2 separate regions of the Homo sapiens genome follow, and region 2 is linked to region 1. The links come from fine-mapping of genetic effects on gene expression. A gene starts in region 1. The other region holds a variant in brackets. All regions are shown on one strand. Distances are from middle to middle.

Evidence for each region. PIP is the estimated chance that this variant, and not a neighbour inherited with it, causes the effect. A credible set is the group of variants that fine-mapping cannot tell apart.
Region 2: its variant is the best candidate, but not a certain one, in a credible set for the expression of TCP1 in whole blood (INTERVAL, PIP 0.58).

What each region holds. Positions count from the first base shown.
Region 1 is chr6:159,786,792-159,792,165 of GRCh38, reverse strand. TCP1 (t-complex 1) reads left to right here and starts at 2,564. Exons shown (of 12, transcript NM_030752.3): 1 at 2,564-2,761; 2 at 4,023-4,108; 3 at 4,295-4,423. The coding sequence starts at 2,698. MRPL18 (mitochondrial ribosomal protein L18) reads right to left here and starts at 1,699. Exons shown (of 4, transcript NM_014161.5): 1 at 1,527-1,699; 2 at 1,040-1,226. The coding sequence starts at 1,578. RefSeq lists enhancers at 1,512-1,571, 1,602-1,781, 2,038-2,701, 2,702-3,366.
Region 2 is chr6:159,827,990-159,833,363 of GRCh38, reverse strand. No RefSeq gene overlaps it. Among named protein-coding and RNA genes, the nearest start is that of PNLDC1, 30 kb to the right of the region's middle. RefSeq lists an enhancer at 2,126-2,859. The variant C/A (reference allele first, on the strand shown) is at 2,817.

The sequences.
Region 1 (5,374 bases):
CTGGCACTTACTAATCATGTCTCCCTAAACCTCAATTTCTTTGATCCTGTAAAATGGGGGAAATTATAACTGCTTCATGATGTAATTTTAAGGATTAAATGAGAAAAAACATATAAAGCAAGTAGCATAATTCCTGGCAAATGTAAGTGTTCATTAAACAACCACCTTTATAACAAAGTATCTCAAGTCATACTAGACTCCTAACTGGTCTTTCTTCAAGTCCTGCTCCCTCAAAAATTTAATCTTCCAAAAAGCAGCTAAAATGATTTTTTTTTTTTTGAGACAGAATTTTGCTCTGTCGCCCAGGCGCTCAGCTCACTGCAACCTCCGCCTCCTGGGTTCAAGTGATTCTCGTGCCTCAGCCACTGGAGTAGCTGGGATTACAGGCGTGCACCACCACGCCCCTCTAATTTTTATATTTTTAGTAGAGACGGGGTTTCACCATGTTGGCCAGGTTGGTCTCAAACTCCTGACCTCAGATGATCCGGCTTCTTCGGCTGGCTCCCTAAAGTGCTGGGATTACAGGCATGAGACAATGCGCCCAGCCAGAATGATCTTGAAAAACCAATTCGGGCTCAAGCTTTAAATCCTCTCGTAGTTTCCCACTATAATGAAAAGAAAGTCTAAAGTGCTCATCTTGACTTACAAAGCTAATCATCTGTCGCCTCCTTACCCCTCCATGTTCATCTTGGGCCATTCATCCTCTGCCCATTGAGCTTCAGATCCACAAGCCCTTCAGTTCCTCACCCCAGCAGTTTCCTTTGCTAGGACTGCTCTTTCTGGCAGATGACTAGGCTTCTTCCTCTTTCAGATCTCACCTTCTTAAATGTCACCTCAGACAGGCAGGTATCCTGTCCGCTACTGTAACATCCTCTTTAAATAGCCCCCATCACACCTATTTGTTGTTTGTTCCAGCCCCTCCGCGAACCCTGCCTCTACCCGCCGCATGGCAGCTACCTGGGAGAGTGCCTGGAGTTGAATGAATGAAAATAGTCTGTAGGGTGCACTGCCCTTGTCAATCACAAGCAGATTTAATTACCTGTGCCAGAACTCACGGGAGGGAAACACCGTCCGCCAGCCCCGCTCTTTCCTGGCTACAGATAAAAGCTCCAGGTTCCGGGGGTTCCGGTTGGTGAATTCTGGGGCGACAGCTTCATTTTCCACAGGGTCCACTTCAGGTTTCGCTGCCGGCTCGGAGCTGGTTGACAGGGCTGCGAACCTGCACCCTGGGCAACGGGAAAAACCGCACAGGGCTTAAAAATGACGGATATGGACAGCGCACGAACCCGCTCTAACGTCTATCCGCTTTTACACCCCCAATCTTTAGGCCCGAGGGGACGAAAAATACGTATGCCCACAGGGTGGAGTCAGCACTGACCCCGTCCTTAACTTCCTACTGTGGTCTTCGCAGTGCCGCGAGCTCTATTTCGATCCGGCACGTCGAATACAAAATAGAACCCGCACGTTCCAATGTACTGTGCAAGCCCAGGCGAGTGAGCTGGGAGAAGGGGGGCAAGACTAATTACCAGGGTTCCTGCAAACCGAGAACAACCCCCAAAACCGCGACCGAAGCGCCATCGCTGAGACGATCTCGGAAAAGCCTCGCCTCTTTTTCCTCACGGACGACTCAGTCGCTCGCCAGGAGCAGCCATATAAAGTCAGGGACAAGCCTTTGGCTGCTGTAGATCCCCAAACTCTCCACGCCAGACGCCACCGACCCGGAAGTAGCAAGTCCCCTGCCACTGAGTGGCCGAGAAGGCGATCTGTTATCCTTCATCGCCAATCATCGCTCACGTCGAGGGGCACGCAGGCCCTGGAGCCCACCAACCACCTCGTAGCTACGCCCAAGACCACGCTTGTTGCTTAAGTCCGGGGTCAAAGGCACACACCCCACAAAACCATGTTTGGGTTTTCTACTCGGAGAGCTTGGGCGGTCATCGACTGGTCCACACACACCCCACCTGGGCACCGCGTAGGAATAAGGCAGGGCAAGATGCAGTTTTCTCCTTAAAAAGGGTGGTTGTCTTCCTCGAACCAAAAATTTTCCCGTATGGCCCGCTGGAAAAACTGCCCCGTCCCACCCAGGTTCGCGCCCTTAAACTTACACTCCTGAGGCCTGGAGCAAAGCCGGCCGATCTGCCTCACGCTCCCCGAGCAGGGACAAGGAAAAGACACTAAACCTAAAACGCACGACTCGCTCAGAACCCCAACTCTAACTTGGAGAAGGGCCCGCCCCTCCAGTTACACCCCAGCTCCAAGCTCCACCCTTCTTACAACCTTTTCTAGAAGGCACTAGAATGGCCCACTGCGTCTGCGCAACATCGTTTGAGGCGAAGGTTCAACCTCTTCCCAGCGGTCCAACATCCGACTTCCGTTCTCCGCTTTCGCGCCCTTCCCATCGGCTATCTAATTGGACAAAAATGCCGACCCCGCCCCTTCCCCGGAGCCTCACTTCCGTCACAGTCCTGTTTCTCTCCCTGTTGTCCCTGCCTCTTTTTCCTTCCCGCCGTGCCCCGCGGCCGGGCCGGGGCAGCCGGGAAGCGGGTGGGGTGGTGTGTTACCCAGTAGCTCCTGGGACATCGCTCGGGTACGCTCCACGCCGTCGCAGCCACTGCTGTGGTCGCCGGTCGGCCGAGGGGCCGCGATACTGGTTGCCCGCGGTGTAAGCAGAATTCGACGTGTATCGCTGCCGTCAAGATGGAGGGGCCTTTGTCCGTGTTCGGTGACCGCAGCACTGGGGAAACGATCCGCTCCCAAAACGGTAAGGGCGGGCCGGGCCTGGGTCGGGTTTGCGGCCGGGGAGGGCCGAGTCCCACCGCGACCGGACCCCGGCTGCCCTCGTTTCTCTCCTTTACCTCCGCAGAAAGGGCCTCGGGGCCCCGCAGCCGGACCCAGCCCACCCGCCGTTCTCTGGGGCAGGGCGCTGTGGCCCCACTTTTCCCACAGCGAGGAGGAGCCCCGCCGCGCGCGGCAGGGTTTTGAGACCGGCAACGCGTGGATGTGGTGTCCGGGGCGGCGTTGGAAACGCGCCCTCCGCGGGAAAGCGGGCCTCCCGGGCTCGCACGTGCGGGCCACGCCTCGCACCCCCTTTTGTTTCAGGGCGACCCCCTGAGTGTCCATGTTAAACGCCAGGTTTTATTTTAGGACCATTTACCAGAAAAAGAGTAGGTCCATCCGCGCGCCCTCGGATGAGCCCGGTGCCCTGTCCGCCCGCAGCTGCAGTCGAGGTCGGGCGTCCGGCGTCCAGCCGTATCCGGGTTGACAGCTTCTTACAGTAGAGTTAGCCCAGGAAACGCCACTCGAGTGCATTGACCCCAGGAGACGGCAGCGCTAACTTAGCAGAGCGTTTGCTGTCAGGCCTTTGGATACCTACAGAGCTTACTGTTTCTTGATAGATTCCTAATTTTTTTCGTAAACAAATCTGAAAGTCACCACCTTCCCCGTTGACTACCGATTTCTCTCCTCACAGATAAAGAGAGTTTTAATGAGCAAAAAACTTGCAGAATCTGAAGGAAAAGGCTGGTATAGCTGTACGAAGTGGCAGAGCATGAAATTGGTGGTTATTACTTTTTTTTTTTTTCCCCGCCATCAGATTCCACCCCGCATCAAAGCTGTGCCAAATAGGCTCGCTTTGTTTAGGGACAGGGTCCCACCTGTCGCCCAGACGAGAGTGCCATCATAGCTCACTGCATTCTCCAAGCACAGGTCCGCGCCGCCGCATCCGGCTTTGTTTTTATTTTTTGTAGAAATGGGTTTCGCTATGTTGCCCAAAGGGGTCTCAAACTCCTGGCATCAAGCGATCCTCCTGCCTCGGCCTCGCAGTGTTGGGATTACACCTGTGAGCCACAGTGTCTGGCCCCATTTACACTCTTAGTAGGTGGTTTTTAAATAATTAACACAGATTTGTAGATTTGGGAAATACGGGGGCTGTTGGATGTCATTTACCTTTAGGCTGAAATTACTGTCTTTCAGAGTTGTGGCTTATCCTCATTTCTTTTTTATTTTTAATTGATTGTCTACAGTTATGGCTGCAGCTTCGATTGCCAATATTGTAAAAAGTTCTCTTGGTCCAGTTGGCTTGGATAAAATGTTGGTGGATGATATTGGTGTAAGTACACATAACTGTTGTGTTAGTTTCCTTAAAGTAAAACTATCTTCAGTGTTTTGCTATGTTCTTTCTTTGACTTTATCAGAATCCACGTACTGGAAGGTGATATTAAAGGTGAACGTGTATTATAATGGGGCTGTGTTGATTTCTATAAGTGGTTCATATTTTTTCCTGCGAATTTCTTAGGATGTAACCATTACTAACGATGGTGCAACCATCCTGAAGTTACTGGAGGTAGAACATCCTGCAGCTAAAGTTCTTTGTGAGCTGGCTGATCTGCAAGACAAAGAAGTTGGAGATGGAACTACTTCAGTGGTAGGTAGACTGGCTAAAGAATGATCATTTTTCTAAAAACGACCGACTTTCAGAAAGTTGAAGCCATAAGTGGGTCATTTGTGCTGTGTCAGAAATAAGTTACATATTCTGAATGCCCAGAAGATTGAGCAAGAAGAAAAAACAAAAGAAGTTACACATTTAAGAGGGGAAATAAGCTTCTTAGGTACAGATTCAGAAACAAAATTTGTAAGTTGATAGTTACAGCTAGTTTGTACAGTTTAAGTAGGAAAGAATTTGAGTTCATTTGACATAGCCCCATTGTTTTAAATGTTGGTATTCACAAGTTTTGAGGGCTTATTTTTCCTTTTATGGCAGTATTCAGACATCACACAGATTTTTTTATGGTCTCTCAAAAGTCTTGTTTCCTCCCCCATCACCCCTTGAGACTTGGAAAGCTCTCAACTTTTCTGATTATTTGGAGGATAAAATGTTACCAATCTGGGGGAGAAACAATGTTTTTATATTATTATTTTTAAGAGACCATCTGTAGCACAGTCTGAAGTGCTGCAGTGCTGTCATATCTCACTGCAGCCTGGAACTCCTGGGTTCAAGCAATCCTCCTGCCTTAGCCTCCCAGAGTGCTTGGGATTGCAGGCATGTGCCACCACAAGCAACTAATTAAAAACCTCTTTTTTTTTTTTTTAAGAGACAGGGTCTCGCTATGTTGCCCAGGCTGGTCTTGAACTCCTGGCCTCAAGTGATCCTCCCTTCTCGGCCTCTGTAGTGCTGGGATTACACGCATGAGCTGCACTCAGCCTGTTCTATTTTTTAAATCCTGACAGGTAATCTCAGGAATTCAAAATGGGAGTGTGAGAAATTAATAAATACATCATGATATGACAGTGTGATCTTACCGAGTCAGTAAATGTGATACACAGTATAAACTCTTCATAGATCATCCAGCATGCTGGTATAGTAGAAACACTATTG
Region 2 (5,374 bases), 41 kb before region 1:
GACTGCAGTGAGCTATGATCATGCCCCTGCACTCCAGCCTGGGCAACAGATTGAGACCCTGTCTCTAATAAAATAAGTGAATAAATACTTTGAATGCTTTTTTCATGCTAGGAGTGTCCAACTCTGCCTTCTGATAGGCTCCACTTGTTTCCTGCCTGCTTGCGCTGATTAGGCATGATGAGTGTGCTTTATGCTGCAGAGGGCCTTCCTTCCCTTACTGCCAGCCAAAGAAGAGAGACACCACCTGTGAAGTATGTGCAATTTCACCCGCCAGTTAAACCTCTTTTCTGCTCCACCCAAAAAATAGCTGAAGGGAAGACGGCCAGGATTGAGGGTGTCCCTTTCAGGAGGTAGCGTCAGACTTCATCAGATCTTGAAGACATTGTGCCTACAGGTCTGGGTGTGGCTAACCATGGACCAGCCTCCAAGGCTTCTCATAAATCCCTGTCAAACTCCTCATGTTGACGTTGAACCCAGGGAAATTACTAGAGCAAACGGTCTCCAAACTATTTCAATCCTATTTCCTTATCACTGAAACAAAGCTGAGGACAAACCCTGGCTGTGCACATGTATTAATAATGTACATACATGTATTCCATGTACTAATATATTGCATATATGATAAAACACACAAAATAAGAAAATTACTATTATTATATTTTTAGACATGGAGTCTCCTTATGTTGCCCAGGCTGATCTCGAACTCCTGGGCTCAAGCAATCCTCCTGCCTCAGCCTCCCAAAGTGTTGGGATTACAGGTGTGAACCATTGTGCCCACAAAATAGGAAATTTAAAGGGAGGGGTGTGCATTGTTAGGGAACCCAGGCACCCTGGCCCTCAGCCTGGCCCTGCAGCTCTGGATGAGGCTCTCATCTCCTTCTTCCACCTTTCTGCTTTCCCTAATCCCCAATAAAGGAGAAACAACAGCATTGTGTCATTCACAGGCACAGAGATAAAACAATTTAGATACAACCAGATGGCAACTCTGATGCATGACAGGTGAAGCCCAAAATTGGGACTTAGCCCGGAAGGGTTCTTGGCTTCCCCCAGGAAAGAATTCAAGAGCTACCCAGTGGTGTTCAACAGCAACTTGTATTGAAGCCACAGCATCCAGGAGCAGCAGAGGCACTGCTCCTTGCGGTACAGGGCACTCTCCAGGAAGTGTGTCCAGAGGAGCAGCTCAGATTTAGGGCTGCACTAATATTTACACCCACTTTTAATTATACATGAATTAGGGGGTGGTTTATGCAGAAATTTCTAGGATGAGGGTGGTAACTTCCTGATCACTGGGTCATTGCCATGGAAAGGCGCAATAATTTTTGGGTGTCGCCATGGCAATGGTAAACTGACATGGCACACTGATGGGTGTGTTTTCTGGAAAACTGCTTCCCCTATAACCTGTTTTAGCTAGTCCTCAGTTTGGCCCGGTGTCTGAGCCCTGCCTCCGGAGTCAAGTCCCACCTTCTACCTCAACTCCACACCTTGGCTCAGGCCAAAACTTTATCATTCTTGACCCCTCTTTCTCTTAACTCCACATTCACTCTGTCAGGACATCATAGCAGCTCCACTGTCAAAATACACCCAGATCTAGAGCCCCTGCACACCTCCCCACTGGGCCACAGCCACCTCTTTTGCCTTCCTCCTTCCCTAGTCAGCCAGACCTTATCACCCTGAGCTGGCAGCCCCTCAATGGCTCACACCTCTGCTGAGAAGTCAAAGCAATCACCAGTGCCTTCTGTGCCCCACCTGACCGGCCCTCCACTTCTTCCCTGGCCTTGGCTCCTGCCTCACCCACCCAAGTTCTCTCAGCCATCCTGGTGGCTGGAGCCTCTTTGCAGGGCCAGGTGCTTCCACTGGGCCCTGGGCCAGACAGCACCTGGAGCTCTGTCCACAGCCGGGCAGGTGTCTCAGCCCTGATCTCTGCCAGGTCTCTGCTCAGGCATCCCCTTCTCTGCGCACCCTGCCTGAGCACTGGAAGGCAGCACCCGACTTCTCCTCCAAGTTTCTCTGTAACCAGCACTTGATCACCTCACAGGCACTCTCATCTCGTTGCTTGTCTAATGACTCCACACAAATGCAAATTCCTGAATCTTTGCTTTAATGGCTGCAGCCGGGGCATCTGGAACAGTGCCTGGTACAGAGCAGGTACATTTGCATGGAATGAAAGCCTGCGCTCCAGGGTCTTCCAGTATAAAACACATGCAGATTTTAGAGACAGGAACAAGCCCAAATTGATCAATAAGGGAATGGGAGAATGAGTGCTTCCCTTCCTTTTCTGTTTTACACAATACAATATTCCTTTTTTAGTCTTTAAAAAACTATAACCTCTGGCTTCCAGGAGTTCAGAACATCCCATCTGACTACGAGCACAGGTCTCAGCAGGGTCACGCAGGCAGTGGCCACTGCTGCTGCTCCACTGGGCTGAGGACACGGCCTCAGCAGCGAGGAAGGTTTGGGCAGCTCCCTGGGATGGGAAAGAAAGCATCTTTACAAGCTCACATGTCAAAGCCTCTGTGCCCTCCACAAACCCAGCCAGAGCCAACTTGAGAACAACTTTATCTGGCTTGTGCTGCCCAGAGAATACTTGTTTTTGGATCTCCACTTTCTCACGATCTTTGGCAGAGCCACATCACACACTGGGGGAGCTCTTCTGAGGATTAGGACTAAGTCTACACCAGGGATTCTCTCCCAGGGGAGAGTAGGGACAGAGTAGGCAGCTGTGTGCCAGAGAGCTCTCCTACTATCTTGCGCTCAGAGCAGGCTCGGCCCGCAGTTCCCCTCACAGTGTCTTCCTCAGAAACACTATTGCCAGCAGG[C/A]AAATGTTTGAATCTGGTTCTTCCTGTAGGAAAAAGGGATAAAGGCAAACAATAGCAAGAGCTGGGGCAGGGATGGGGCAGAATGAGGGACCTCTAGGGGAGCTTCCGAATGCTGAAATCGGGTGAAGCCATCCAGCACCGCGGCAGAGCTTCCAGAACAGCGACGCAGGAGACTGGGTGGATGGTGGGTGCTGGGTCACCGTGGTGGCCACGCAGTCTGCAAGGCCTGTAACCAGCTCAGCCGCATCAGACCCTGCTTCCTGGGCAGGGCTAACCCCACTCACTGCGCAGGGCTAACCCCACTCACTGGGGAGTATGAGGTAGGAATAGCACTTACCTGGGCAGGTGCTTCATCAGTGTGTCGCTGGAGAATGTGGCAGGCAGAATAATGGCTCCCCAAAGATGCCCAGTGCCCACAGCCTAACCCCAGAACCTGTGAGTATAGCACCTGATGTGGCAAGAGGGACTCTACAGACATAATTAAGGGCTTTGAGATGGGGAGTTTATCCAGGGTCATCCGAGGAGGAGGGTCCGCCTAATCACATGGGTCTTAAAGCATGGCAAAGCATTCCCTGCTGTGGTCAGAGGAGACGAAGCTACAGAAAGATCGATCAGAGAGATTCCACATTGCTGCTGCTGAAGATGGAGGAACAGGGCCACGATCCTGGGAATGTTGGTGACCTCTAGAAGCTGGAAAAGGGGAGGAAGCAGCTTCTCTCTGAGGCCTCTGGAAGGGCACACAGCCCTTCCGCCCCGACTTCTTGATTTTAGCCCCGAGAGCTGTGTTGGACTTCTAACCTCCAGAAATGCAAAATGGTAATTGTGTGCTATTTTAAGCCACTACATTTGTGATGACTTGTTACAGCAGGAAACAGGAAACTAATGTAAAGAAGTAGGCATGACTGTGTCCAGTAAAATGCAATTAAATAAGAACTAAAGATATTTCACAGGGCTGTCCCCACAAGCAGGACAAGAGAGCTCTATTTTCAACAAAAAAATTTTAATGCATTTTCATGTTTAAAGTGATAGAAATACATGCTCATTGTAAAAAAAAAAATGGTAAAAAGATCCCTAAATATACAGAAAATAAAACCATATGGTCCACCTACTCTGGGTAGCCCCCACCAAGACTTCTGTGCGTTTTCTTTCAGCTTTAAGTTCACTTTTTTTTTTCTTTTCTTTTTTTTTTTTGGAGACAGGGTCTCACTCTGTCAGGCTAGAGTACAGTGGTGCGTGATCTTGGCTCACTGCAACCTCTACCTCCCAGGCTCAAGTGGTCCTCCCACCTCATTCTCCTGAGTAGCTGGGACCACAGGTGGGTACCATGATGCCCGGCTAACTTTTTGTATTTTTGGTAGAGATGGGGTTTTGCCATGTTGCCCAGCCTGGGATGGAACTCCTGAGCTCAGGCAATCCAACTGCCTCAGCCTAAATGCTGGAATTACATGTGTGAGCCACTGTGCCTGGCCTTTAAGTTCACTTTCATTTTTTATTTTTTGAGATGGAGTTTCACTCGTCGCCCAGGTTGGAGAGCAGTGGCGCGATCTCAGCTCACTACAGCCTCCGCCTCCTGAATTCAAGTGATTCTCCTGCTTCAGCCTCCTGAGTAGCTGGGATGACAGGCACTCACCACCACACCCAGCTAATTTTTGTGTTTTTCTTTAGTAGATACGGGGTTTCACCATGTTGGCCAAGCTGGTCTTGAACTCCTGACCTCAGGTGATCTACCTGCCACGGCCTCCCAAAGTGCTGAGATTACAGGCGTGAGCTACCACGCATGGCCGATTTCACTTTTAAAATATAACTGTCATCACTCAGATGCTAAGTTCTATGTACTAATTTTTTAAAAATAGTACATTTCTGGTTTTGAAGGGATGCACACTCAAGATTTTTATAGTACAGAAAAATATATGACAAAGAAATTCGAAATCACCAGGAGCCCCTCGAGAGATAACATTTTAACATATTTTATTAGTCTTTTTAAAGGATAACTGAGAATACCTTATATAGTACACCTTTTCTTGCCTACACAGGAATAATCACAGGTGTTAGAAGAGGGGAGAGATGATTGATTACAGGTTATTAGTGTTTCCTGCCAACCACCACCATCCCCCAGATTCCATCACAGAACAACAGTCCGAGTTATTTAAAGGTCAGCAATCCAAAGATCCAGATCACTCGAGTTCTTTGGCCATAAAAACAGGCAGCAGATGATGCTTGATATGGTTTGGCTCTTTGCCCCACCTAAGTGTCACGTGGAATTGGAATCCCCAGTGTTGGGGGAGGGGCCTGGTGGGAGACGATTGGATCCTGGGGGTGAACGGCCCCCTGCTGCTCTTGTGCTAGTGAGTTCTCTGGTTGTTTAAAGGAGTGTGGCACCTCCCCCTTCTGTCTTCCTCCTGCTCCAGCCATGTAAGATGTGCGGGCTTCCCCTTCGCCTTCTGCCATGATTTTGTTTCCTGAGGCCTCCCCAGCCATGTTACCAGTACAGTCTAGGGAACCGTGAGTCAAACCTCTTTTCTTTATAAATTACCCAGTCTCAGGTATTTTTTTTTCTT